Linked DNA regions of Homo sapiens. The protein of the gene in region 1 binds, or shares a complex with, the protein of each later gene. Each region holds a gene or a part of one and is shown on either strand. Other genes may lie near its edges.

Evidence for each region.
Region 2: PRPF8 (region 1) and LSM8 share a complex: the UniProt entries of both Homo sapiens proteins name them as parts of the U4/U6-U5 tri-snRNP complex.
Region 3: the proteins of PRPF8 (region 1) and SNRNP200 are in contact, whole or in part, in a cryo-EM structure (PDB 7OS2), measured with the Homo sapiens proteins. Residues at the interface, in NP_006436.3 of Homo sapiens: Trp2073, Arg2074, Ala2077, Ile2078, Ala2081, His2084, Asn2109, Lys2113, Tyr2168, Glu2171, Met2172, Arg2266, Leu2268, Gly2269, Phe2270, Gln2276, Arg2287, Leu2298, Ala2299, Asn2300, Glu2303, Glu2307, Arg2310, Pro2311, His2313, Phe2314, Leu2315, Asn2316, Phe2317, Ala2318; in NP_054733.2 of Homo sapiens: Pro543, Met544, Arg545, Ser546, Thr570, Gly571, Thr589, Glu591, Lys592, Ile595, Arg624, Arg728, Lys729, Glu773, His786, Ala787, Thr814, Glu837, Tyr992, Thr1008, Ser1010, Ile1012, Leu1041, Glu1042, Arg1043, Val1044, Pro1045, Ile1046, Pro1047, Val1048.
Region 4: PRPF8 (region 1) and PPIH share a complex: the UniProt entries of both Homo sapiens proteins name them as parts of the U4/U6-U5 tri-snRNP complex.

The regions. Positions count from the first base shown.
Region 1 is NC_000017.11:1,660,787-1,667,905, reverse strand, and holds part of PRPF8 (pre-mRNA-processing-splicing factor 8), read left to right. Parts: intron 1-5,752; coding exon 5,753-6,000; intron 6,001-6,115; coding exon 6,116-6,295; intron 6,296-6,499; coding exon 6,500-6,635; intron 6,636-6,743; coding exon 6,744-6,913; intron 6,914-7,078; coding exon 7,079-7,119. UniProt on the Homo sapiens protein: Plays a role in pre-mRNA splicing as core component of precatalytic, catalytic and postcatalytic spliceosomal complexes, both of the predominant U2-type spliceosome and the minor U12-type spliceosome.
Region 2 is NC_000007.14:118,187,148-118,194,266, forward strand, and holds part of LSM8 (LSM8 homolog, U6 small nuclear RNA associated), read left to right. Parts: intron 1-1,130; coding exon 1,131-1,258; intron 1,259-4,764; coding exon 4,765-4,855; 3' UTR 4,856-7,119. UniProt on the Homo sapiens protein: Plays a role in pre-mRNA splicing as component of the U4/U6-U5 tri-snRNP complex that is involved in spliceosome assembly, and as component of the precatalytic spliceosome (spliceosome B complex).
Region 3 is NC_000002.12:96,274,480-96,281,598, forward strand, and holds part of SNRNP200 (U5 small nuclear ribonucleoprotein 200 kDa helicase), read right to left. Parts: intron 5,081-7,119; coding exon 4,972-5,080; intron 4,520-4,971; coding exon 4,330-4,519; intron 4,233-4,329; coding exon 4,068-4,232; intron 3,880-4,067; coding exon 3,758-3,879; intron 3,472-3,757; coding exon 3,328-3,471; intron 3,237-3,327; coding exon 3,060-3,236; intron 2,763-3,059; coding exon 2,602-2,762; intron 2,507-2,601; coding exon 2,425-2,506; intron 871-2,424; coding exon 778-870; intron 677-777; coding exon 533-676; 3' UTR 1-532. UniProt on the Homo sapiens protein: Catalyzes the ATP-dependent unwinding of U4/U6 RNA duplices, an essential step in the assembly of a catalytically active spliceosome. Plays a role in pre-mRNA splicing as a core component of precatalytic, catalytic and postcatalytic spliceosomal complexes.
Region 4 is NC_000001.11:42,653,930-42,661,466, forward strand, and holds the start of PPIH (peptidyl-prolyl cis-trans isomerase H), read left to right. Parts: upstream 1-4,493; 5' UTR 4,494-4,517; coding exon 4,518-4,583; exon of another isoform or gene 4,584-4,914; coding exon 4,915-4,979; exon of another isoform or gene 4,980-5,298; coding exon 5,299-5,322; exon of another isoform or gene 5,323-5,415; coding exon of another isoform or gene 5,416-5,441; exon of another isoform or gene 5,442-5,592; coding exon 5,593-5,637; exon of another isoform or gene 5,638-5,697; intron 5,698-6,932; coding exon 6,933-6,975; intron 6,976-7,537. Other genes in the region: CCDC30 (coiled-coil domain-containing protein 30), read left to right, coding at 1-99. UniProt on the Homo sapiens protein: PPIase that catalyzes the cis-trans isomerization of proline imidic peptide bonds in oligopeptides and may therefore assist protein folding. Participates in pre-mRNA splicing.

The DNA.
Region 1 (7,119 bases):
AGGAATTTGAGACCAGCTTAGGCAACATAGCAAGATCCTGTTTATATTTAAAAATAAATAAATAGGCCGGGTGCGGTGGCTCACGCCTGTAATCCCAGCACTTTGGGAGGCCGAGGTAGGTGGATCACGAGGTCAGGAGTTCAGGACCAGCCTGGCCAATATGGTGAAACCCCATCTCTACTAAAAATACAAAAATTAGCCAGGCGTGGTGGCACATGTCTGTAGTCCCAGCTACTCTGGAGACTGAAGCAGGAGAACCACTTGAGCCCCGGAGGTGGAGGTTGCGGTGAGCTGAGATTGCGCCACTGCACTCCAGCCTGGGTGACAAAGTGAGACTCCATCTCAAAAAAAAAAAAAAAAAAAAAAAGCTATGTCATGGGCAAGTTCTATAACTTGTTTTTTATGAAGACATAAGAGGTATAACATATATAAATTTCTTACCATGGTACCTAGTACACGTAGACCTGAGTAAATATTATTTTCCTTCTTGCCTCCCCTTATCCCCCAGGAATTTCTGCTATTTAGTAAAGGAACACTGGGCTCCTCAGGAATTTATGCCTCCTCCCCTTCAGGGATAGAGCACTGTTAACTACAACAGAAATACTGTGTTCCATTACACACATCAGCAATTCCAAGTGCAGTCCAAGAATTTACTAAACCTAATGGGAATCATCCACTTGCCTTTACCCCAGTATCTAGCCTATCCTGGCCCCTGGCCCTCCTTTTTTTTTTTGAGAGGGAGTCTTGCTCTATTGCCCAGGCTGGAGTGCAGTGGCACAATTTCAGCTCACTGCGACCCCCGCCTCCCGGGTTTAAGTAATTCTCCTGCCTCAGCCTCCTGAGTAGCTGGGATTACAGGTGCCTGCCACCATGCCCGGCTAATTTTTGTATTTTTAGTAGAGACAGGGTTTCACCATGTTGGTCAGGCTGGTCTCAAACTCCTGACCTCATGATCCAACCGCCTCGGCCTCCCAAAGTGCTGGGATTACAGGCATGAGCCACCGCACCCGGCCCCCCTCCTTTCTGTAGATCTGCCTGGTTGTCTCATCCTGTGGACATGCGAGATGCTCAGTCTAGCTTTCATAGTAGGGTTTGAGCTGTTATCTCACCTGCAGTCTTTTCTCCTTGCTTGTCTGAATACCATTTGCTCAAGGCAGATTACTATAGTAACTCCAGCCAACGCACTCTTTCACCTCAATAATTGTTCAGAAGACATTTTTTGCCTTAAAGTCTTGACTATATCATTTGGTATTTTGTGGTTTGCTATCTTGTTTTATTCAGCTTTTCAAAGAAACAGCTTTGGTTTCATTAATTTTTATCGTTTTTCTCTTTTTTGTTGCATTGATTTTTTTTTTTTTTGAGATGGGGTCTCTATGACCCAGGTTGGTGTGCAGTGTCGCAGTCTCAGCTCACTGTAACCTCTGCCTCCCAGGCTCAGGAGACCCTCCCACCTTAGCCTCCCAAGTAGCTGGGACCACAGGCACATGCCACCATGCCTGGCTGATTTTTCTTTGTATTTTGGATACAGACAGTTTCGCCATGTTGCCCAGGCTGGTCTTGAATTCCTGAGCTCAGGTAATCCACCCCCCTGGGCTCCCAAAGTGCTGGGATTGTAGGTGTGAGCCACCACGCCTGGCCTTGTTGCATTGATTTCTTCTCTTATCATTGCCATCCCTTTGCTAGTTTGTTAAGGTAAAAGGTTAGATTATCAATTTTGGACCTTTCTCTTTTTTTTTTTTTGAGACAGAGTCTCGCCCTGTCACTCAGGTTGGAGTGCAGTGGCGCGATCTCTGCTCACTGCAAGCTCCGTCTCCCGGGTTCACGCCATTCTCCTGCTTCAGCTCCCAAGTAGCTGGGACTACAGGTGCCCACCACCACACCCGGCTAATATTTTTTTTTGTATTTTTACTACGACGCGGTTTCACCGTGTTTGCGAGGATGGTCTCGATCTCCTGACCACCACCTGATCAGCTTGCCTCGGCCTCCCAAAGTGTTGGGATTATAGGTGTGAGCCACCGCACCTGGCCTGGACCTTTCTCTTTTTCTTTTTTTTTTTTTTTGAGATGGAGTCTCACTCTCTCACCCAGGCTGGAGTGCAGTGGCGCGATCTCAGCTCACTGCAACCTCCGCCCTCTGAGTTCAAGCGATTCTCCTGCCTCAGTCTCCCGAGTAGCTAGGATTACAGATGCCTGCCACCGCACCCGGCTAATTTTTTTGTGTGTTTTTAGTAGAGACAGGGTTTCACCATCTTGGCCAGGCTGGTCTTGAACTCTTGACCTCGTGATCCACCTGCCTCGTCCTCCCAAAGTGCTGGGATTACAGGCGTGAGCCACCGTGCCCAGCTGACCTTTCTCGTTTTTTTTTGTTTGAGACGGAGTCTTGCTCTGTCGCCCAGGCTGGAGTGCAGTGGCGCAATCTTGGCTCACTGCAACTTCCGCCTCCTGGGTTTGTGTCATTCTCCTGCCTCAGCCTCCTGAGTAGCTGGGACTATAGTCGCCTGCCACCATGCTCAGCTAATTTTTTGTATTTGTAGTAGAGACGGGTTTCACCGTGTTAGCTGGGATGGTCTTGATCTCCTGACCTCGTGATCCACCCACCTCAGCCTCCCAAAGTGCTGGGATTACAGGGGTGAGCCACCGTGCCTGGCCAACCTTTCTCTTTTTCTAATAGTATTATTCACTTCTGTAAATTTTCCTCTCAGCATTGCTTTAGCTGCATTCCTCCCTTTTTTTTTTTTTTTTTTTTTGAGGCAGAGTCTCACATTTTCGCCCGGGCTAGAGTGCAGTGGCACGATCTCGGCTCACTGCAACCTCCGCCTACCCTGTTCAAGCGATTCTCCTGCCTCAGCCTCCCAAGTAGCTGGGATTACAGGTGCCCGCCACCACACCCAGCTAATTTTTTTTTGTATTTTTAGTAGAGACAGGTTTTTACCATGTTGGCCAGGCTGGTCTTGAACTCGTGACCTCGTGATTCACCCGCCTTGGCTTCCCAAAGTGCTGGGCTTACAGATATGAGCCATCGTGCCCGGCCCCATTCCTCACATTTTAATATGTTGTGTTTTCATTTTTATTTAGTTAAAAGTATATTCTAATTTCCCTTATGAGTTCATATTTCACCTTAGGTTGTTTCAAATTATGCTGTTTACATATTTGGGGGTTTCCCTTATTAGTTTCTGCTTTGATTCCATTATGATTAGGAAACATGTTGTATATGATCTTAGTTTTAAAAAATGTATCAAGATTTTTTTTTTAATAATTAATTCATTTAGAGGTGGGATCTCACTCTTGCCTAGGTTGGACCCAAACTCCTGGGCGCAAGCGATCCTCCTGCCTCAGCCTTCCAAAGAGTTGGGATTACGGGCATGAGCTACTGCACCTGGCTGAGGCTGACTTTTTGATGTCCTAGCGTACAGTCTCTCTTGGTGCCTGTCCTATGTGTGCTGGAAAATATCTGTTAATCTGTATTCTGCTATTGTTAGGTTGAGTGTTTTACAAACATTAGGTCCAGTCAGTTGGTTACATTGCTTAAGTCTTCTATATCCTTAGTGATATTTTTTGTATACTTCTATCGATTACTGAGGAGTATTAGAAATCTCTAGTAATCCCAGCAGTTTGGGAGGCTGAGGCTGGTGGATTGCTTGAGCACAGGAGTTCGAGACCAGCCTGGGCAACATAGCGAAACCCCATTTCTACAAAAAAAATACAAAAATTAGCTGGGTGTGGTGGTACACGCCTGTAGTCCCAGGTGCTTGGGAGGCTGAGGCGGGAGAGTCTCCTGAGCCTGGGAGGTGGAGGCTGCAATGAGTGGAGATGGTGCCATTGCACTCTAGCCTGGGCAACAGAGCAAGACCCTGTCTTGCTTGAGAGAAAGATCCAACTACAGCTGTGAGTTTATTGTCTTTCAGGTCCATCATTTTTGAAATTCTGTTATTAGTTACATAATGTATTTAGGATTATTAGGTCTTCTGAACGAGTTGACTACTTTATCGTATCAAATATCCCTCTGTATTCCTGATAACATTCCATGGTCTGAAGTCTTTGTCTTAATCAGTAGTGCCACTCCAGCTTTGTTTTGTGTTTGCATGGGTGTATTTTTCCATCTTTTTACTGTTAATCTGTGTCTTTGTAACTAAAGTTTATTTCCTATAGACAGCATATAGTTGGCTCTTTTTTTTTTTTTTTTTTTTTTTTTTTTTGAGATGGAGTCTCTTCCTTGGTTGCCCAGGCTGGAGTGCAGTGGCATGATCTTGGCTCAGTGCAACCTCTGCCTCCCGAGTTCAAGCGATTCTTCTACCTCAGCCTCCCAAGAAACTGAGACTACAGGCGCGTGCCACCACGCTCAGCTAATTTTTGTATTTTTAGTAGAGACGGGGGGTCTCACCATGCTGTCCAGGCTGGTTTCGAACTCCTGACCCCGAGGCCCGCCTCAGCCTCCCAGAGTGCTGGGATTACAGGTGTGAGCCACCATGCCCGGCCTTTTTATTTAAATCCAATTTGACAATGTTTGCCTTACAAATGGTCTAAATACCTCAATTAAGGTTAATGTAACTATCAATGTGGCAATGTAGCTCAGTTTAAATCTACCGTCTTACTCTTTTTTTTTTAAATTATTTTTTCTGCTTTTCTCTTGTCCTGCCTTCTTCTGAATTTAGTTGTTTTGTGACTTTATCTCCACTTTTCACTTATTTGGCTACATGGTTTTTTTCTTATTGTTTGCTCTAAGGTTTACAGTATATACATAGCTCACTTACTGTGATCTACTTTGACCATTAGTCTACTACGGATCACTTCACATATAGTACAAGAACCTTAGAATAATACACTTTAAGTTCCACTCCCACTCTTAGTAGTATTTTTGTCATAACATTTTAATTGTACATGTATTATAAGTGCTATAATACTTTGTTACTCTTTTTGCTTTGAACAGCCTTTATCTTTTGTAGAAATTGCAAAATGAGAAAAAATATTTTTTTGCATTTTACCCACATACTTACCATTTCTGGTGTTCTTCACTAGTTTGTATAGCTCCATCTGGTGTGCTTTTTTTTTTCTTTTTCTTTTCTTTTTTTTTTTTTTGAGACACAGTCTTGCTCTGTCTCCCAGGCTGGAGTGCAGTGGTGCGATCTCAGCTCACTGCAACCTCTGCCTCCTGGGTTCAATTTCTGTATTTTTAGTAGAGACGGTTTCATGTTGGCCAGGCTGGTCTTGAACTCCTGACCTCAGGTGATCCACCCACCTCGGCCTCCCAAAGTGCTGGCATGACAGGCGTGAGCCACCACACCTGGCCCAGGGGAACCATTTTTTTTTTTTTTTCCCCTGAGATGGAGTCTCGCTGTGTTGCCCAGGCTGGAATGCAGTGGCACAATCTCAGCTCACTGCAACCTCCACCTCCCAGGTTCAAGCGATTCTCTTGCCTCAGCCTTCTGAGTAGCTGGGATTACAGGCGTCTGCCACCACACCCGGCTAATTCTTGTATTTTTAGTAGAAACAGGGTTTTGCCATGTTGGCCAGGCTGGTCTCCAACTCCCGGGCTCAAGCAGTCCTCCCACCTTGGCCTCCCAAAGTGCTGGGATTATAGGCATGAGCCATCGCGCCCAGCCTCATTGTGTTTTGCTTTCTATTTCCCTAGTGACTAATGATGTTGAACTCAAATCTTTCTTTAGTAGTAGGGATAAAACTAACTGCATCAAGTAGTCTCCACCCTCCCCGCCCCTGGCTCATCTGTAATTTACTTTTTTTTCTACTACCTTTAGATTGTGAATAAGTGGAATACAGCTCTCATTGGCCTTATGACATACTTTCGGGAGGCTGTGGTGAACACCCAAGAGCTCTTGGACTTACTGGTGAAGTGTGAGAACAAAATCCAGACACGTATCAAGATTGGACTCAACTCCAAGATGCCAAGTCGGTTCCCCCCGGTTGTGTTCTACACCCCTAAGGAGTTGGGTGGACTCGGCATGCTCTCAATGGGCCATGTGCTCATCCCCCAATCCGACCTCAGGTACAGCCTGGTTCAACGTATTTCTAAACCCTATTGCTCAGGCCCTAAGGGAAGTGGGTATTTCTTTAGTTTTAGGCTTTATTTTTTCTGTAATCTTGGTTGTACACCCAAACAGGTGGTCCAAACAGACAGATGTAGGTATCACACACTTTCGTTCAGGAATGAGCCATGAAGAAGACCAGCTCATTCCCAACTTGTACCGCTACATACAGCCATGGGAGAGCGAGTTCATTGATTCTCAGCGGGTCTGGGCTGAGTACGCACTCAAGAGGCAAGAGGCCATTGCTCAGAACAGGTGGGCACCTAGGAGGGCATGCCAACCCTGGGGCAGGGGCAGTGGTGGCCTTTGAACCGTGTGGAGTTCAGGGTCAGAGCATGCCATGGTTGTATGGAGGTGAGAAGGCTGGTTCTACTGACCCTAATTATTTTTGGCCAGGAAGGAGTGCTGAGCTCCTCATATGAGATCACGTTTTGACTTGAATCTTTCTTTTTTTGGAAGACGCCTGACTTTAGAAGACCTAGAAGATTCATGGGATCGTGGCATTCCTCGAATCAATACCCTCTTCCAGAAGGACCGGCACACACTGGCTTATGATAAGGGCTGGCGTGTCAGAACTGACTTTAAGCAGTATCAGGTATGTAGAGGGAGCAGATTTTCCCTGAGTCAGGAAAATCCATGGCTATCCCCGAAACTTGGGGCAATAGGCACCCAGAAGCTTGACCGTGCCTGCCTTGCCATCTAGGTTTTGAAGCAGAATCCGTTCTGGTGGACACACCAGCGGCATGATGGGAAGCTCTGGAACCTGAACAACTACCGTACAGACATGATCCAGGCCCTGGGCGGTGTGGAAGGCATTCTGGAACACACACTCTTTAAGGGCACTTACTTCCCTACCTGGGAGGGGCTTTTCTGGTGAGGATTCTCCTCTCTTAGAGGGACCTGTCACAACCCTTTGAGCTCATCTCTTGTATGCCTCTGTGATTTCCTGTGGTGTTTCCCAGACAGCCACCTCCAGGAGGTTAGCAGTGTGCTGGGAAATGGCAGGATATCACCTCACCTGCTTCTCTTGCTCCCCAGGGAGAAGGCCAGTGGCTTTGAGGAATCTATGAAGTGGAAGA
Region 2 (7,119 bases), on another chromosome or scaffold:
TTTTGTTTCTCTTCCAAGTTACAGATTTCATTCTCATTTTATTTCATTCTCTTTTTTATTTCATTCTCATTTTATATATTTTGACTTTCAGAAGATAAAACAGTTTAAGAACTTGAGAGGTTTAACCATCAAAACCAATGTTAGTTGATATTTCTTCAGAAACTTGAATACCATGTGAGTTACTCTGTTATGCTAGACCCATGTCTTCTTTTATTCAATACTAAGCTTTCATAAAACTCTCCCTGATTATTTCCTTCAAGTTCTGGTTTTAATTAGTATAGTCACATTTGTATCTACCTTACTGGGAGAATTAAACAATAAATCCATATGATACACATTAAACAATACATGTGAGACACACAGAACACTGGTAACTAGTATGTACTCATTAGGTGTTACATGTAACTACTAGTTAAATTTTTAGTATATTTATGGGACTGATTTGAATCTGAAAAATGGCAAATTATATTTACTTGTGTATAATAGTATAGAATGTTATGGTTTAGTGGTCTGGCTCAGGAGCTAGCCTTTTGTGGTTCATCTCCTGGCTCTGCCACTTACTACCCATGTGATCATAAGACACACCATTCTGTGCCTCAGTTTCTTCTTTGAAATGGGGCTAATTATAGTACTAAATCAAAGGGTAGAGATGAGTTGAGAAAATGTGTACAGTGTGTTTAGCACACTGCCTAGTGCTGGCATATAGCATATAGTGATACTATTACATTGCTGTAGTTGGTATGTATGGTTCTTCCTTATTTATGTATATTTGGCTATCATTTTCCCTTAAATATCCTTTGTCTTAGTTTATACCTTTAGCTGCTGGTCTACATAAGCTTTTATGCTACTTACTTGGAGATAGTCACATTAGTACATAGGTGTCCTTTGCAACTGCTGTCAACTCTACATATGAGTGAGATGTGTGGTGCAGGTCCCCCCACCCCAGCCAAATAACCAAGAGGTAAATTGTGTACCCTCGAATACTGTTGGTTATAAAAAAGGCATTTTATTTGCCGTCGTATAGGTACTTGTATTGGAATACCTGGCAACTAAAATGACTGTGAGGTTAAATTTACACTTTCAGGTAAACCAGAATATTTCTCTTTTTCTCCTGAATATTTTCTTTACAGGGAACACTGAAAGGTTTTGACCAGACCATTAATTTGATTTTGGATGAAAGCCATGAACGAGTATTCAGCTCTTCACAGGGGGTAGAACAAGTGGTACTAGGATTATACATTGTAAGAGGTGACAACGTGTAAGTAAAATATATCTGTTAAAATTATAAATGATACTGCCTTACTTTATGGAGAAGAGGCTTTCCCCAAAATACCCTACTGTATTGTCCATACATAGTTAATAGAATCTTGCATTCATTTCTTTCGTAAATATACCTTTTCTTATGTTTGTGTAAAATAAGGCATATGTATACATTTTATGTCAGCACTTCTTTAGGTTTCAACCAAAGCTGTCTCTCTACAAATTAAACTTTTACCTGAGATTTGCCCATTTTTCTACTAGTTAAGTAGCCTGGGTAGAGTCCAGAAAGGGCTCTGCCTTATATTAAATACTTCATTAGAGAGACTTCTTAAAACGTTCTTTCAAATACCCAGAATTTTAGAGGAACATATTTCTAGAGTCCAAGGCCAAAGTTTGAAAAATGTTTTGAAATCTCTGATTTGAACAATATTAATTCATGCTCAATAACATAGGTGTATTTATAAATAAGTACTTACTCGTTATTCATTTTCTTTTAATTTTTTAGTATCATTGACACACTTAAGATGTCCCTGTGGCCTCAGTTTACTTGGGACAGACAGATATAAAAGTTCAAGAGTAATTGGCCAGGCATGGTGCCTGTAATCCCAGCACTTTGGGAGTCTGAGGCAAGTGGATCAGGTCAGGAGTTCAAGACCGGCCTCGCCAACATGGCAAAACACTGTCTCTACTAAAAATACAAAAATTAGCCAGGCTTGGTGGCGTGCGCCTGTAGTTCCAGCTACTTGGGAGGCTGAGGTGGGAGAATCACTTGAACCCAGGAGGTAGAGGTTGCAGTGAGCCGAGATCACCCTACTGCACTCCAGCCTGGGTGACAGATTGAGACACCAATTCAAAAAAAAAAAGGCCGGGCACAGTGGTTCAAGCATGTAATCCCAGCACTTTGGGAGGTGGAGGCGGGTGGATCACTTGAGGTCAGGAGTTCGAGACCAACTTGGCCAATGTGGTGAAACCGCGTCTTTACTAAAAATATAAAAATTAGCCAGGCGTGGTGGCGCAAGCCTGTAATCCCAGCTACTCGGGAGGCTGAGTCAGGAGAATTCGCCTGGGAGGTGGAAGTTGCAGTGAGCCGAGATCGCAGCACTGCATTCCAGCCTGGGCAACAAGAGCAAAACTCCGTGTCAAAAAATAAAAAAGAAAAGTGGCTAATGTGGTTCACGTGCCGTGGCTCATGCCTATAATCTCAGCACTTTGAGAGGCCAAGGTGGGTGGATCACCTGAGCCCAGGAGTTCAAGACCAGCCTGGCCAGCATAGTGAAACCCCGTCTCTCCTTAAAATAGAAAAATTAGCCTGGTGTGGTGGTGCATGCCTGTAATCCCAGCTACTTGGGAGGCTGAGGCAGAAGAATTTCTTGAACCTGGTAGATGGAGGTTGCAGTGAGCCAAGGTTGCGCCTTTGCACTCCAGCCTGGGCAAAAAGAGTGAAACTCCATCTTGAAAAAAAAAAGAAAAGTGGCTGATGTGACAGAGGAACTGAATTTTAAATTTTATTTAATTGTAATTAATTTTAATAGTTACATGTGGCCAGTATTAGTATAGTTATAGAGGCTAGAAGAATGCCAAATCAGTTTTCTAGTGAGTACTACACTGAATCAAAATATAGTTGGAAAGAAGCAAAAGATACATTAGCAATTTTAAGCTAGAACATTTAACAAATTCTAGGGGACTAACTGTCCCCTGGAATAACTTAAAAAGTGCAGGAATAATTTACTCATTTAAGTTGTTTATGTTAGCATCACCTTTAGATGAATAAATAATTTGATCTGTAATCAAAAATCAAGAGTTTATAAAATATTTTAGAGATGACTTTTAGGTGGAGTTACAAGGTGAGCTGTAAGTAATGAGAGAGAGACAGAGCAGATAGGGCCCAGGTCTCTGGATCAGAACAACACTGTTTATATTGGAGCTGTGCATAGTAATTGATTTTAAGGTTTCTCCTACTTAAAACAATTTTTTTTTCTTGAACTTCAGTGAAAAAAGTCTTGTGCTAGAGCCAGCTTCTACTGGCCCATGAAAGCATATTGTTATATTTTAAGGAATTTTACAAGCTGGTTAATTGATGTCTTGTTAGTAGCTTGAAATTGGCCGTGGTGGGAGTGTTTGCACAATGGATATTAGTAAATGCAGCAAATCAGTCTCCCGCTTTTTTTCCAGAGAGCTGGTTTTTAAAAATGTATCAGCATTTCCCTGCTTACCATAGGGATTTTAAATGATACTGAATATTATCATTTAAAATTTAAGAATATTTAAGAGTGGAATTGAGGCCTTTAGTTTGAGAAAACTTAATTCATTCTGCCAGAGTTTCATATTTTTCATTTATTAGATGATTTAAGACTTTATATACTTTAAAGCAAAATTTGGCAAATCCCTTATTACTAGTATTCGTCTTTAGAATTTGGCCGGGCACAGTGGCTCACACCTGTAGTCCCAGCACTTTGGGAGGCTGAGGCTGGCGAATTACCAGAGGTCAGAGGTTCGAGACCTGCCTAGCCAACGTGGTGAAACCCTGTCTCTACTAAAAATACAAAAATTAGCCGGGTGTGGTGGCATGCGCCTGTAATCCCAGCTACTCGGGAGGCTGAAGCATGAGAATCGCTTGAACCTGGTAAGTAGAGGTTGGAGTGAGTCAAGATCGTGCCACTGCACTCCAGCCTGTGCAACAAGAGCGAAACTCTATCTCAAAAAAAAAAAAAAAGAATTTACTCTCATTAAAACCAAACAAATGTAAACCCAACCAATACTTTTTAAAAATAATATTTCATAGACATCTTGTGGTCTGAGTGATAACATTGAATATTTCCAGTTAGAGGGCTATGGGTTGGTTATCTAGCGTGGTATTAATGAATTTAAAGTTATAGATACTATGTTAGTGTTGAACAAGAAAAAATTTTCTAGCTTTTAACCTGAGCCAATCACGTCAAAAATGATTTGTTAGATACCAAAGTACTTGTTCCTACTATTATTTTTGTATATGAAGAACTGGCTTTGGATTTAACTGAAAACTTAGGAAAACAATCTAATCGCTGTTGTCTATATCATTGATTTAATTCATCAAAGTTACTCAAATGATTGATATTTTTACTTGCTAATTATTTTAGGAGTGATTTTGTGAAATTTATTTTTAATACAGTCCTAGAATTGAATTGAAATATGGTTTGGAAGTTTGAGGGTTTTTTACTGTGTCTATCCTTGTGTGTCTGTTTCCTTTAAAGATTCATGATACAATCACTGTGTACAATGTGTCCTTTAATATTGGTTCCTGTAATAATGTGCCTTCAAATTATTTCTTGAGTTTTGTGACTTAAATATGCAGTTCACTGACTCACGCCAATGTTGTTTGCTTTTTACCTTAATTCTTTTTACTGTGCTCTCTCAGTTTTATTTTTTGGAAGAATGGTACTCAGTGCTTTGATTTGATTAGTAAGATTTTTGAAACACATGTAATTTATTTCAGAAATGTGATTGTTTTAACTCTGACTTTTTTAGTGCAGTCATTGGAGAAATCGATGAAGAAACAGATTCTGCGCTTGATTTGGGGAATATTCGAGCAGAACCTTTAAATTCTGTAGCACACTGAGGAAAAACTACATACTTGGACATCTGTAAATCTTTGTACAGAAACTGATTATTCTGAGGATGATATATGGAGTTTTTATGAGTGTGTCACTGGATTTTGACTCCTTATTGATTCATTGTAATATGTAAATTAAAATATTTCTACATTTTATTGAAAAAAAAACCTTTTTTTTTGCCTAAATATAAGTTTGGTAGCTTGGTTTCTTTTTTTTATTAAATAGTGTGAAAATATAATGGGCATTTTGAAAACTTTTAGAAAAAAGTAGTACTTTTTGATACTTTAGTATTTATGGAAACTAGTGGAAAAGAGAAATTAGTGTGCTATATAAATCAGGCATTCAAGTAACAGTAATACAGGATATATGTGTTTTCTTTCCCTGATGTTTAGGAAAATCACAGGAGGGTAAATCTTTGCTGGAGTTATCTGAATCATTGGCATTTATCCGATTCCACTGGTGGTAGTTTGCTAGTGCTTCTAAAAGTTGCTCCCTAGCACTGAGAGGTGTGGGTAGGTAAAAATGTGTTTGCTTGAGAAAAGCAAAAATGCTAACAAGGTTTTGATAGATTGGCCCAAAATTCTAACTTGAATATTAAGAATGACTAGGAATGGTAGAATTGACAGAGATGATTAGTAAAGTCTCTTGATGCCCAATTGGTTAGGTATGAAAGTAATATGAACACATTAATGTTGAATTTTACAGACAGTATATTTGAAAAAAATTGATTCCATGTAGTCTTCAATTTTTAATTTTTAAGAATTGGAGAATTTCTAATGTTAAAGTTAGTTTATAAATGTGAGTAAATAAACTCTAAGTTTGTATTGAAGTAGTGCTAGCTATTATTGTCAGCAATTTTCCATGATTCATTATCCATAAACCTGATTTCAGAAGACGTCAACTCAGTTTTTTAAATAATTGAAAGAAACAATGTAAGTAGTGTTTAGATATTCAGGCTAGTCCATAAAATTTCTGATCAACTCATGTATAGGCCCAAGTGTGTGTCTTTGTGATGAGAAGAACATAGAAAAATATTTACATCCTTGTAATTGAAACAAATTTAAATAGTTTATTTGTTTTGTTTTTATGAAAGTGCTTAAAAATAGTAGTTGGCAAGCTTTTTCTATGAAGATCCAGATAGTCTTTTAGGCTTTGAAGGCCATGTGGTCTGTCACAGCTACTCACCTCTGCTATTGTGGCCTACAAATAACCATAGATAATACATAAATGAATAGTGGCTGTCTTCCAGTAAAACTTCATTTATAAAAATGGAGGTGGGGGTTGGATTGGGCTTGAAGGCATAGTTGCTGACCCTTGGCTTAATACAAGTTCAATAAGAAAAAATGAACAATTTGTATAAATTCTGGAATAGATCCTTATAGAGAGTTTAGAGGTGGGTTTCATTCATATTTTAAAATATTTTAAACTTCATACTTATTAAACATAATAGCTTTTTGGGGGAGGAAAATATCTTCACTCAAATCAGCCTTATAAGGGGAGAAGCACTATTCTCTAGAATTATTTGGTTGATGTTAAGGGCTGTCTCTGGGAGAATTAGAGAAGTTAGCTAGTATTGGCTATTCATAAGTACTTGACTTGTAGTATAATGTTTTATAATCAATTTATTAATAAAATGATGGAAAGTGGGTAAGGCAAACAGGCAAATTTAGGGACTGTGAATGAAATATTGTAGTATATGGCATTTTGAATTGGTAAAGTAATTCCAAAAATTAAATAAGAATACACATTGTTCAGTTGCTAAGAAAAATGCATTCTAACAGTACAAATGAAGTCCAGAGTCAGATCTTTTCTCAAAATACTTGGCATATCAACACATTACACATAAACAAATAAAAACCAGTCCTGTCCCTCATGATAATGGGTTTCTAATGTGATGTATTCTTGCAATCTGAAACACCTTATAAAGCTGTATTTTCCTGATTGATGTTGGAAAAAGCATTCCCAAAATGTGAATTATTGTTTTTATGAATAGTTACAGAGGATGTGATGACAATATGCCAGATAATCTATGTAATTCTTTATTCCTGGATACAAGCACATGGTGGACTGTTTTCTCACAACCGATTAAAATTGGATTTATTTTTGCATGAGAATTGTAAGGGAGCCACAACCATGAGTAGTAACATAATTAATATACAGTGTCAATATTTTATATTTAATGAGACATTTATTCTATAATCAGTTCTTATTTATAAAGAGGCGCAAATCAATTTCAACCTGTAATTACCTCTGTGCTTTGTGACTCAGG
Region 3 (7,119 bases), on another chromosome or scaffold:
CCGAGGCTCAGTGTTGGTTCTTGTGGTAGTGCTGATGTGTGGGTACCACTGAGGCCAGGCCACAGTCGCATGTACCCTCCTCTGGGCTGACTCACGAGGCTACAGGGGACAGCACACCTAATGAGCAGGTCTGTCCTCCAGACATACTCATTAACAAGCACGTTCCTGGCTAAAAAATAACCAGATCTTTTTGGCCGTGCCCTCAGGTTGGAGAAAGAAAACTTTTAATTTGGAATCACTACAAAGACAAATGGTTTCTACAAATTATTTTATTAGAATGTCAGACTCAAAAGAACTACCAGGAACATGCCTGAAAATGCTATATATGATTTATGCTTGACCCATGACACCTGCTGTCACTGGATCCAGAGTGAGCAAGGGAAAGGAAGTGGAGGTAGGCGGGGACAGCACCAGCCCTGGCTGGCCAGACCTGAGGCCCACAGACCTGGTCCCCACAACCAGGATTCCTACAATGTACACATTCCTAATTCAGGCTCAACTCTCCTTTACCCAAAAGTAAATGCCTCAGGACTCAATCTGAATCACTGTCTGTCTCAGCTTCTTTCACATCCACGCTGAATTTGTACTCCTGGTCACATCCCATGTAAGCGTCACTCATGAAGTACAGAGTGTAGTTGTGGGCACCAGTGGCTGGGGCCACAAAGTCCAACTTCACCTAGAAAGAGCAGGCAGAAATCAAGATGAGCATGGACACAGGAAGCATTCTCACCCTTCCCCCATGCCAGAACAAATGCTAGGGCCAGTGGACACACTCACCTTGGCCTTCTGCTGCAAGGTCAGCCTCTTGATGGAGATGAGGCTATTGGACTTGGCATCTCCAATCACCACCCACCAGCCCTCTTCACGTTTCTGCAGTGATCCAAAACCAAGAATTTCAGCATGTAAAACTTGATGACCATAGGCAACCATGAAAATGGTACAGTTACAAAAGAGAGAACAAAAATCAGATAGCTTTCCAAAGTTTCTTCCCGAAATACAATTAGATTTAACATTTTAATACTATCAAAAGTTGTCTCAAACAGACTTAATTTTTTAAGTAGATGAATTCATTTGTTGGTTCTGGCTCATTTCCTTGTGCCAAGGTACCTTCTCCCACTTAGTACCTGCCACTAAGTCCAAGGTACTACTATTAGAGGTCTAGTCTTTGGGGCCTAGGAGCTTTGAGTTCCTTAGAGATACTTTTAAGTACAAGGCAAATCTGCCAGATGAGAAAAAGCTTAGGCTGGGCGCGGTGGCTCACGCCTGTAATCCCAGCACTTTGGGAGGCCGAGGCGGGTGGATCACGAGGCCAGGAGATCGAGACCATACTGGCTAACATGGTGAAACTCCGTCTCTACCAAAAATACAAAAAAGAAATTAGCCGGGCATGGTGGCGGGTGCCTGTAGTCCCAGCTACTCGGGAGGCTGAGGCAGGAGGATGGCGTGATTCCGGGAGGCGGAGCTTGCAGTGAGCCGAGATCGCGCCACTGCAGTCCAGCCTGGGCGACAGAGCGAGACTCCGTCTCAAAAAAAAAGAAAAAGCTTAACACAGAGCTGAATGTGCACAGAGATATCCACAGCAGGCCTTGCAGCCCTGTCTACGGGCTGCCCCGCTGTCACAAAGACGAAGAGTCCCAGTTAAAAGCAGTCTTTACTCAGAGCCTTGAAACAATTAGTTTACAGAATTAAACATGACAGTATCTGGTTTCTGCTATCAACCTTCAATTATTCTCCCATATAAAGAGAACCAGAATTTCTTTCTGGTGGTAAAAAACCAAGCACCCAGAAGCACAGTAAGTGGCAGTGAGAAAAAAGAAGAAACAACCAGGAAAGCCCAAGTGTCCTGCAGCCATCGGAGTTAAAGACAAATGCATCTTAAAGAGTCAGAGAGATGGACAATACTACACAACTGACGGGTTTAACAATGACCAGTCATCTAAATTTTTTTTTTTTTTTTTTTTTGAGATGAAGTCTCACACTCGCCTGGGCTGGTGTGCAGTGGGGCAATCTCGGCTCGCTGCAGCCTCCGCCTCCTGGGTTCACACCATTCTCCTGACTCAACCTCCTGAGTAGCTGGGACTACAGGTGCCCACCACCACGCACAGCTAATTTTTGTATTTTTAGTAGAGACGGGGTTTCACTATGTTGGCCAGGCTGGTCTCGAACTCCTGACCTCGTGATCCGCCCGCCTTGGCCTCCCAAAGTGCTGGGATTACAGGCGTGAGCCACTGCGCCCGGCCCTAAACTGTTTAAGCAGAAACAAACAGAAAAAAAACCCCATAGCCTCAAGATTAATTCTCACCCTTGTGAGCTGATTATCAGTCTAAAGTTTCCCTCCCTCAGGGACAGTGTGCCCTTGTACCAAGCACCTAGCCAATGGATAGGGTGAGTTGACACCTGACCAAGCCAGCTACCAGGACGCACCTGCGGGAAGAGAGGCGCAATGACAGGGCCTGTGACTTCCTCCTCTCGCTCCAGCTGCACCAGCACCACAACTGGCCCGCCACTGCAGGGGGAGAGGAGGGGCGCACGTCAGTGATGGGGCAGTGGGCTCAGAGCACACTATTATGCTGTGCCCAACAGGCACCACCTCTGGCTCACCTGCGGATGCTGTCCTTATCTACCACCTCATAAGATAGTTCGATATTAGGGTAGCGGTTACAAAAGCGAGCCACATCTGCAATCTGGCTGTCAGTCAGCTGAAGCAACGCGTTCCGTTCTTCATCCTCCATCTCCATGATGTCGAAAACACTCTCCACTCCCTGCAGTGAGTATTCAGACGTCAGGAAAGAGAGAACACGGGCCAACAGCAAATGACACAGGCAGCAAAGAGCTACTAATTTTACCTCCTACACTATCAAGTCATCTAGATAAAACAGCTGCAGAAAGAACACAGCCCACAGTTGGCAGGCTCTCTAGCATCTCAACAGGGAGCACCTTCGGAGGAACCATAACTAAAAGTTTAACTTACTGAGACTCACCTCCCGCAACCCACGCTCGGTCCACAACACTGGGCTCTCAGGCTCACCCACCTGACCCTCTAGGCTGACCCGGCTCACCTTGTCTGTGCAACGTTTGATATGCTCAGAGGTGAAGTGTGGCAGCTGCTTCAGGTATGAGTCCTTGGACCACATGGCTTGGGTGACCATCTGGGCCAGTTCCATAGCTGCCAGAGCAGGGCTGAGCCACCCATTGCTGGAAAGGACATCCACGCAGGCCTGGATGAGCCGGATTGCCTGAACAGGAAAAGGAGTATAAAAGTGGGCGGAGTTGGAGCTGAGATGTTTAGAGCACCACTGACCCCTCTGCCCCACACCCACACTCTACCTTACTAAGGATTTCCTCCGTATCTGACTGCAACTCAGCACTCAGCTGCATGCGAGACAAGTGAGCCTGCAGGAGCAGGTTGGTCTTGACGTGCGGATCATTGAACTTAGGGTTATTCAGCTTGTGGGGGACCTTCTGAGCCAACTACAAAGTGGAAGAAAAATAGCTGGTGATGAACAGGTGACCCTGCCTGAGACCAGCTCAGGCCAAAGCACCACGTGGCCCAGGCTCACACAGCCCTTCAACACCCTGAGGCATGTGGGTGGTAATGGGATGGAGATGGGTTTGAGGGAGGTATGGAGCGGGAGGACATATGGCGGGGGTCGGGGGATGCGTATGGGCGTGTTGGTGGCAGGGATGCCATGTGCTCTGGGCACACAGGCCGAGTTTGTTGTTCCCAGGATGCTCTCCTGAAGTCTGCTGTCCTCACCTGCCTCAGGAGATTGTCTTCATGGTGCCGGATGGGAATGTTCTCATACTCTGCTGCATTGGAGATGATCTCGATAAGCCCTCGCACCTTGGTCTTGGCATTGAGGGACATGCTGAAGAGCTCTGACAGAAAAAGGAAATGTGAGAGAAGCTAAAACCAGGCAGAGAAGGAGCAGAACTGCCCGGGCTCCCCTGCTGTCCCCTGCAGTGTCATCCCGCTGACAAACACGGGCGCACCTCTCATCCCAGTGGGCTCCTGACCCGTGTAAAAAGGCTCCCACAGACAGGACACGGGCCATGCCGGGCCTCACCAATGGTGGTGTAGTTGATGTAATAGTAGGCGGCGATCATGCCTAGGTTCAGAGGCGCCACGTCCATCTCGTCCTCGATGCTGATGCACTTGGACTGCTCCAGGTCACTCAGGGTCTGCTCCACCAGCTCTGACAAGTGGTCCGACAAGTGACGATGGGAGATGCCTATGGAGGCGAGAGGTGAGTGGGGAGCCTCAAGAAGATGCCCAGCAAAGACTGTGAGAACCACCAAAGGATCACGTGTGCTCCCAAGCCCACTGACCCTGCAGGTTGTAGTAATTGGGGTTCTGTGTCATGCGGCGGTACAGAAAGGTCCAGGTGAGGTAGTCCACAGCATCCTGCTTGTTCTCAATGGTCTTGGTGACGATCTCAGCATTGAAGTGGTCATGCATACAGTGGTCCAGGTGAGATTCTACTGGCAATGGCTCATATAAGAACTTCTTGAAGAAATCCTGTGGGTTGGAGAGGGAGAAGGAGTAATAAAGAATTAGTGACAACACGGTCACAGAGGGCCAAGGGCAAATCAACAGGGCATGGTCCCTGTGTGAGACCTAACTAATACCAAAATGGAAGAAGCCACACATTTAGAAAGTGCATCACTGGTGACAATACGCAGTGGGAACAGAGGTACAGCAAGTCACGAGGGCAGAGCAGTGAGCAGCCCAAGGAGGAAGGAGAGAACCAAGTAGAGGGTGAAGACCTCAACACGTGGAGCCAACGGCAGCAGCAAAAGCAAAAGGCAGCAAAATTCCATGTGGGTGGCAGGCTCGTCACAAAAGAATTGTGTAAATAAGAGAGGCAGAAGTTAAGAGACTAAAGTTACTGAAGACATCTATCAAAAGAAAGATTAAAGAATCCATTCTGAGGCTACGGATCCAAGAGGCTCCATGAGTCTAGGACTGACCTTCTTGGAGCCCTGACACATGATGACACAGCGCCCCTCATCGTCCTGCAAAGGGCGGTTGGCGTGGCCCACCATCTGAAGCACGTCATAGATGGGGTAATCCACATAGCTGGTGACAGAAGCAGGGAAAGAAGGAAAAGCCACCTCAACACGGAGACCATGCTCAGGAAGCCCAACTCCCTTCGCCAAGTAAGAGTAAAATGTTAATACGGGGAGACACGGACAAATCACGGGACGACTCTGTTTATGAATCTCTGCACTTACAACTAGCTTCACTGGCTGGCCTGTATAACATTTTAGTATTCAGTGTAAGGGCCATGAATTTGCTGCTCAAGTGCCATGAACCAAGCTACAAAACTATCTAATGCCAAAACCAAAATAACTCCCTATTCGAGGATCAAATATGTAAGTCAAACTTCCCAAACTTTTCTCCTTTAATTAAAAAAAATTATTATTGTTTTTATTTGTTTTTTGATACAGGGTCTTGCTCTGCTGTCCATACTGGAGTGCAGTGGCACAGCCACGGCTCACTGCAGCCTTTACCTCCTAGGCTCAAGTGATCCTCTCACTTTAGCCTCCAGAGCAGGTGGGACTACAGGTGCATACCACCACACTTTCCAAACTTCATAGTTGTGTATTTCGTGAGTCATCAAGTCACCCAACTTTAACCCTACCTAGAAGCAGGTTCAAACATTAAAAATGAACCCGTAAATAAAATTCATTTCAAACTAATCTGCATTTCAGGAAAAAGTTATTAAGCGTTGGGCCAGGCACTATAACTCACACCTGTAATCCCAGCACTTTGGGAGGCTGAGGTGGGTGGATCACTTGAGCTCAGGAATTCAAGACCAGCCTGGGCAACATGGTGAAAACCCATCTATACAAAAAAAAGGAAAAATTAGCTGGGAGTGGTGGCACATGCTGGTAGTCCCAGCTACTTGGGAGACTGAGGCAGGATGATTGCTTGAGCCTGGCAGGCAGAGGCTGTAGTGGGCTGAGATCATACCACCGCATTCCAGCCTAAACGACAGAACAAGATTGTCTTAAAAAAAAAACAACAACAAATTATGCAGGCTTTTTTATGAGAATGACTGACTCTTCTAACTTCTTTTTTTTTGAGATGGAGTCTCGCTCTGTTGCTCAGGCTGGAGTGCAGTGGTGCTATCTCGGCTCACTGCAACCTCCGCCTCCTGGGTTCCAGCGATTCTCCTGCCTCAGCCTCCCAGGTAGCTGGGATTACAGGCGCGTGCCACCACACCAGGCTAATTTTTGTATATTTAGTAGAAACAGGGTTTCACCACATTGGCCAGACTGGTCTCGAACTCCTGACCTTGTGATCCACCCGCCTTGGCCTCCCAAAGTGCTGGGATTACAGGCATGAGCCACCACACCTGGCCCTTTTTTTTTTTTTTTTTTTTTTGAGACGGGGTACCACTCTGTTGCCCAGACTGGAGTGCAATGGCGCGATCTTGGCTCACTGCAACCTCTGCCTCCTGGGTTCAAGTGATTCTCCAACCTCAGCCTCCCAAGTGGCTTGAATTACAGGTGAGTGGCTTGAATAACAGGCACCTGCCATCAAACCTGGCTAATTTTTGTAGAGACGGGGTTTTGTCATGTTGGCCAGGCTGGTCTTGAACTCCTGACATCAGGTGATCTGCCCACCTTGCCCTCCCAAAGTGCTGGGATTACAGGTGTGAGCCACCACACCCAGGCTTTTTTTTTTTTTTTTTTTTTGAGTTGGAGTCTCACTCTGTTGCCCAGGCTAGAGTGCAATGGTGGGATCTCAGCTCACTGTAGCCTCTGCCTCCCAGGTTTAACTGATTCTCCTGCCTCAGCTTCCCAAGTAGCTGGGATTACAGGCGCCTGCCACCACACTCAGCTAATTTTTGTTATTTTTAGTAGAGACGGGGGTTTCACTATGTTAGCCACACTGGTCTTGAACTCCTGACCTCAAGTGATCCGCCCGCCTCAGCCTCCCAAAGTGCTGGGATTACAGGCATGAGCCACTGCGCTCGGCACTCCTCTAGCTTCTTACTTGTCACTATATAGGTGTATGACCTCGACCAAGTCACTTTTCCTAATCTACAAGATGTCTGAGATTAATGACGTAACGTCAAACATTCCTCCTGGCTCTAATTTCCTACCTCT
Region 4 (7,537 bases), on another chromosome or scaffold:
CTTGTGTGTTCACAGAATTCTGAGGCTGGATACATAAATGTGGCTTCTCTGAAGGAGACACATGGTATACAAGAACAAGACCAAAAGTCAGAACTATAAAATCACTGGTGCCTAAAGCTATACTGAACAAAAGTGGTAATTTAAAGCCTGGACAAAAGGTGGACCATGACATTGAGAAGAGTTACCACAGATCCCAAATGGATATCACCCAAGAGTCTTCAAAACTGCTGATAAATTCATTAAAGCAGTTGTAAAAATGGATTTCTCAAGTTTGTTTGATATCCTCAGATGCCTTGTATTGACCAAAATATTGACTTTAGTTCAATGATTTATTTAGGTTTCTCTTCAGCAGAGCACATGTAGGGTTAATTCAACATTCTTTCCCATTATCATGGGTATCTTTTCTGATTTATTTTTTAACAGTAAAAACAATACAGTCACATTAAAGCAAATTTTGTTTTTAAAAAAACCCTCCTATGCTGGGCGTGGTGGCTCACGCCTATAATCCCAGCACTTTGGGAGGCTGAGGTGGGTGGATCACGAGGTCAGGAGATCGAGACCATCCTGGCTAACACGGTGAAACCCTGTCTCTACTAAAAATACAAAAAAATTAACCGAGTGTGGTGGCGGGTGCCTGTAGTCCCAGCTACTCAGAAGGCTGAGGCAGGAGAATGGCGTGAACCTGCGATAGCACCACTGCACTCCAGCCTGGGTGACAGAGTGAGACTCCGTCTCAAAAAAAGCAAAAAACAAAAACAAAAACCCTCCTATAATACCATAAGCTTTTTTTTTTTTTTTTGAGACGGAGTCTCTTACTCTGTCACCCAGGCTGAAGTGCAGTGGCATGATCTCCGCTCACTGCAACCTCTGCCTCCCAGGTTCAACCAATTCTCCTGCCTCAGCCTCCCAAGTAGCTGGGATTATAGGTGCCCGCCACCATGCCCAGCTAATTTTTGTATTTTTAGTAGAGACAAGGTTTCACCATGTTGGCCATGCTGGTCTTGAACTCCTGACCTCAGGTGATCCACCCACCTCAGCCTCCCAAAGTGCTGGGATTACACCAATACCACAGTCTTAACACAACTAATTTTATTTTACAGTTATTCCCTTTTGGTCCTAATTCAAGTACATATATTCTAAGTGGTTATTATAATATTGTATATTCATTTTCACAGTTTGATTTTTAATTTACTGTATATACCATGGAAACATTTTCAATCGCCATATGATATTCAATCATGTTGATGTTCTATAATTATTTTTATGGGAAAAGTTTTAAATGTTTAATGAAGAAGATTTAGAGCAATACATTATTTAAAAGTGGATAGGAGGTTGGGCGTGGTGGCTTACACCTGTGATCCCAGCACTTTGGGAGGCCGAGGTGGGCAGATCACCTGAGGTCAGGAGTTCGAGACCAGCTTGGCCAACTTAGGGAAACCCCGTCTCTAACAAAAATACAAAAACAATTAGCCAGGTGTGGTAGTGCGCGCGCCTGTAGTCCCAGCTACTGGGGAGGCTGAGGCAGGAGAATCACTTGAACCCGAGAGGCAGAGGTTGCAGTGAGCCGAGACTGCACCAGTGCACTCCAGCCTGGGTGACAGAGCAAGACTCCATCTCGAAAAAATAAATAAAATAAAATAAAATAAAAGTGGATAGGAAAATACCAAGAGCTTTTCCTGGGGGAGGGGGTATGAGAAGAGAGTTCACATAAACCCCATTACACAGAAACTACCCCTAAATATTTCCAAACAGGAGTACAAAGTAGGTGAACAGTCTCCAGCTCATCTTTAGTGTAGTGGGACTGCTTCTTCAGAAAAGATCAGCAACATTCACATCCATTTCATCTATCAGGGTGGAACAGTACTGCTCAGTATCTCTGAGGATGTGGATGTTCTATAAATTAAACGTTCTCTTGTTTGGCATTTAAGCTGTTTTTACTTTTTTTTTTTTTTTTTTTTTTTTGAGACAGGGTCTCACTTTGTAACCCAGGCTGGAGTGCAGTGGTTTGATTACTGCTCATGCAGCCTCAACCTCCCATGCTTAAGTGATCCTCTCTCCTCAGCCTCTCCCAAGTACAGGCATGTGCTACCATGCCTGGCTCATTTTTGTACTTTTTGTAAAGACGAGGTCTCACTCTCACTCTATTGTTCAAGCTGGTCTCAAATTTCTGGGCTCAAGTGATCCTCCCACCTAAGCCTCCTAGGTGATAGGATTATAGGATGAGCCTCTATGCCAGGCCTGGTTTTACTTTGTTACTATTTAAGATTATGCTGTGTTGAAGGTCTTTGTGCATGTAGTTCTTTTCTTCTTTTGAATTACTCCAGAAAACAAATTCGCAAGATTGGACTGAGTCAAAGGATATAAATGTTAATATTGCTCTAGGACATCACTTCCTTTGCTTTAAAAAAGGGTTCTGCCTGACCAGGTGCGGTGGCTCACGCCTATAATCCCAGCATTTTGGGAGGCCGAGGCAGGTGGATCACTTGAGGCCAGGAGTTCAAGACCAGCCAGGCCAACATGGCAAAGCCCTGTCTCTACTAAAAATACAAAAATTAGCCGGGTATGGTGGTGCACACCTGTAGTCCCTGCTATGCGGGAGGCTGAGGCTCGAGAATCACCTGAACCCAAGAGGTAGAAGTTTCAGTGAGCTGAGACCACTCCACTGTACTCCAGCCTGGGCAAAAAGTGAGACTCTGTCTCAAAAAATAATAATAATAAATACATAAATAATAAAATAAATAAAAAGTGTGTCAACATACTGTTTTCATAGTCAAGTTACTCAACCTCCTTGAGCCTCAATTTCTTGATTCCTAAAATGGGAACAATAATAGTTCTCTATCCCATAGGGTTGTGAGGACCAAATGAAATGAAGCATGTAAAGTATTTAGCACGTAGTAACTGCTTAATAAATGCTATCATCATTTATTTTCACTAGAGGTTTATCAATGTACTATTTTTTTCACAACCTCATCAACATTGGATATTATCAATTTTAAAGATTTATTCTAAAACAGTTGGTATAAAATTATACTGAAGCGTGACTGCTGCTGTTCCTTTTCCCCCTCCTCCCCTTTCTTCTTTTTCAGTTGGAGGAGACCAAGAGGAGAGGATCAGTAACCAGAAATAAAAATGACCCTTTACATTGAGACACACTGTATTTTTATATGTAATCCTTGCTTTCTCAGACAACAGAGCTAGAAAGATGATCATAGGAACTAGGAAATAATAACTATTTTATTAAATGCATGCTGTTATATTGAATGAGCCTTGCCCAAGGTCCCCTTCTTTCACTAAATTCATTGCATCTATTATTTATTGAATACCTACTATATGCTATTCAGTAGGCGACATTGCAGCTACAGCTGCGAATAGGACCAGGAGAGTCTCTACTTTCATGGAGTTTATATGCTATCAGGGAGGAAGATTATGTGTGTGTGGCAGGAAATGAGGTGTAGACACATACCATACGAAGATAATGTGGAAGTGGGGGTGGCATGAAGAAAACAAACCAGTGATCTGAATGACCAAGGGCTACTTTAGATTAGGTCTAATGTTGCCTCTCAGGAGGTAACATCTGGGGTGAGCCCTGAACTACAAGGAGCATTACTTCCCACACGCATACCCCAACCAACCCCCACAATCCCCCGCCAACCCACATTAAGTTCTGGAAGGAATATTTCAGACAGAAGTAACAGCTATTACAAAGCCCTAAAGAGAGGAGGGATCTCAGTGACCTGGAGGAACAGACAGGTCAGAGCACAGTAACTAAGGGCAAGTGGTACAAGATGAGGTCAGGTACGTGATAGCCAGATAAATGCACTGTAGGGCTTCGTATGCACGGAATTGGATTTTATTCTAAATATGGGAAGCCAGGAGTTATTTTTAAAATAAATAGGAAGCACAAGAGTTATTTTAAAAATAAAAAATAAAAAACTCTAGTTGCTTTATGGGAAATGAATTGGAAATGACAAAACTGGTAGCTTTTGTGGCAGAACAAACATTATCTATTGTCCTGACTTAGAGGAAGGGATATTTACTTAGCAAGCCTGTACGTGCCAAGCTGTTCTAAACGCTGAGGATGAACAAACCAGAGTTCCTGCCTTCACGGTGTTCACACTAGCGGGCAGAAGACAGACAGCACGTGTGGCGGTGCAGAGGGCTTGGCTGCAAGAGCCGATAAGGAGGACCCTGGCGACTGCCTAGTCCAAAAGTCCTAGCTAGAGCAAGATCAACTTGTACTGCCCTTAGTACAGCCACGTGAGTGGGGTGACCATTGACCTTAACCAAAAAGATGTCAAGGCTTTCCTCCTCCTCACTCCCGCGTCCCCAGTGCCAGGCAGAGTCTCTCAGCTAGACCCTAGCAGTCTCAGCACACACCGCACGGGGCGACAGCTTCCGGGGGCGGAGCCTGGTCTCGCTCCACGTCTACCGCGCCTGCTCCCCGGACGAAATCCGCGGACCGGGCTTTAGGTTCGCCGGAATCCCACGCTCCCGACTTCTGCTTCCGGGTCGGAGCCATGGCGGTGGCAAATTCAAGTCCTGTTAACCCCGTGGTGTTCTTTGATGTCAGTATTGGCGGTCAGGTGAGATCCAGGAGGCTGCCCACACCTGCGCCGAAGGGAAACTGCTCGGGGCTAGGCAGGCAGAACTCACCCAGAGAGAGCGGACTCGGGAAGCCAGCCAGAAAGTGAAATTGCACCCGAACCTACCGACCTGCCGGGCGGGGGGAAAGGAGGAGGAGGAGTCTCCCCAATCCTAGCGCCCCGCTTCTGGAGGAACTGGGCGGTTAGACTAGGGAGGCGGAGGTGGGAGATACCGAGCGGCAGGGTGGTGGGTCAGCCCATCATGCCCCCTGCTCCGTGAAGCCCTCATGGTCTTGGACTGGGCCTTCTGACACTCTCCCGCTGATTGCAGGAAGTTGGCCGCATGAAGATCGAGCTCTTTGCAGACGTTGTGCCTAAGACGGCCGAGAACTTTAGGTAAGGACGTGCTCCAGCTCCGCTGGATTAGCTGAGGCAGAAGTCGGGCTCCAGTCAGCCGCCTGAAATAGCCTGTCTACCTCTGTCCGTCCGCTCACTGCTCTTGAGACCTGATTCCTCCATGCATTGCTCTGTCTGGTTGCCGTTTGGATTGTTCCCGTGTTAATTTACGTTGTTAGTCTGTGTGACTGCGTGTCTGGACGTCTGGCTGGCCGATTGGTGGACTTGCTGGCTCCAGTGTTTATTCTTTCCCGTATTTAGAGGCGCTCACGACTGTGACATCATAGTGATTGAATCATTCATTTTTTGTCCCTTTCAGGCAGTTCTGCACCGGAGAATTCAGGTCAGTTTCAGATGTGTTTGACTTCTTTGCCTGCTCCAGAGGGGTGTTCTGGGGCTGCAGTGAGGGTATCGGTGAACCACCTGCTGGCCTTGAATGATTGCTGGTGACAGTGATAGAAGGTAATGCCCCAAGGGTCTGTCCCTAGTTTATTTGCCTTCTTTATGTCTGTCAACCATCTTTAGGAGAGTCCTTTTGGCTCCAGTGCATGGTAAACTGGAAAGGCCTTGTGCTACCTGCTGTCACTCCAAGTCTCTTTCTTTTCGGTTATAGGAAAGATGGGGTTCCAATAGGATACAAAGGAAGCACCTTCCACAGGTAAGGCTCTTGGCAAGCCATCCTGGAGTCTTTCAGAAATATTTCCTGGGGGATTAGGCTCTTTAGAGGAAAATAAAACCAGAGGGTAATTCTTACATTTCTTGAGAAGAAATGTTTTTGTGGACTCAACAACTGAAGATTTATTAAATGTTCTAACTCTACTTACACTCCCCCACTTCTTAGGTCTTTAAAACAGAAACTACTCATCTTTACAATATCTTGTCTTTTTCATGCACTTGTTTGTGCGAATGCAGATTTTTTAAAAAGTACACTTGTAATCCTAAAGTGCATATAATATATCCTGCTGGTTGATATTTATAACTAATTCCTAAAATGATCATATATGATTGTCCAAGGATAATCATATTTCCTGGGGAGTGGAGTATGTCAACACTTAGTCTCATTTCAATATAGAATCTTTCTCATGGCCTCACTGTGGTTAGTAACAATGTTAGCACATAATTATATCACAGCTTTAGAGCTTTGGGTCTCTAATCCCCAGTAAGACTCCTGTGAAGTGGTATGGGTGATCTGCATTCTACAGAGGAGGAAACTGAGGATAAGAAAGGTTAAGGACCCTCCCTAGGGGTAATAGCTAACAGTTGTTAAGCCCTTACATGTTTAGCAGTACATTTCACATAAATTCTCTGTAGTTCTTTCCCCCAAATTTACATCAAACCCTTGCTCTGCCTTTTGCTTTGGCAAGTAAGCTTTCAGCCCCTTCTTCTTATTACTGTTCAGGTACCAGATCATGCACTTGATCAACTCTAACATGCCCTAATTTATAACGAAAATCCTTTTTTATGGTTAATTATCCTTTCAGCTTAATCATTCAGGAAAAGAATAATCTTCAGGTTTTTTTTGTTTTGTTTTGTTTTTTTGAGACAGAGTCCCACTCTGTCGCCCAGGCTAAAGTGCAGTGGCATGATCTTGGCTCACTGCAACCTCCGCCTCCTGGGTTCAAGCAATTCTTCTGCCTCAGCCTCCCGAGTAGCCAGGACTACAGGCATGTGCCACCACGCTCGGCTAATTTTTGTATTTTTAGTAGAGACGGGGTTTTGCCATGTTGGCCAGGCTGGTCTCAAACTCCTGGCCTCATGTGATCTGCCTGCCTCGGCCTCCCAAACTGCTGGGATTACAGGCGTGAGCTACCGCACCCAGCTAAGAGTAATGATTTTATAATAGCCAAAGTGATAGTGTATTTTGAAATCAACGTTAATCTAATACAATAATAACAACATCTATGTTTTTCTAAACCATAAAATCTTCTCAGTATTCTTTGCTCTCTGTTTCAGGGTCATAAAGGATTTCATGATTCAGGGTGGAGATTTTGTTAATGTAAGTACTATTCCTTTCCTATCAAAGACCCGTAGTTTTAGTTTTTGTTGTTATTGTTGCAATTGCTGTTTTTACTACAGAGACCCAGTCTTCAGGCTTGAGAACAATAGCCAGGTTTGATGTGGGTGTTGGAGAGAATGGTGATGGGGAAGTTCTTGAAAGTGGCTGGGTACGACTGACTGTAGATAACCGACTTTAGCACTTTGATTGAGGCATTAAATTCCATGGTCCAAATCTCAGCCTTTTTGAGCCAGAAATTGGACTTTTTAAGAATACCTATAGATGATCTATGATAGGTTCACACTAATTAGTCATATGAAACTTAGTCAGAAATCAGCTGTGGTTTTTGTTTTTTTCTGAATGGAGGTAAGTCTCCTTCTAGTGGGCTAAATGCTTGTTTCATTTTCTCTTTTACTTCTGGGTGTCACAGTGCCTGGAAAGCTGAGTTTTTCATAAGAAGTTGATTTGTGGGCAAGGAATCAGAGCAAGAGAGGTAGATAGTTCTGGAGGAATTTTGCTCTATTCACTGAGAGAGCCCAGTGAAATAGTTCTTTTTTGCTAA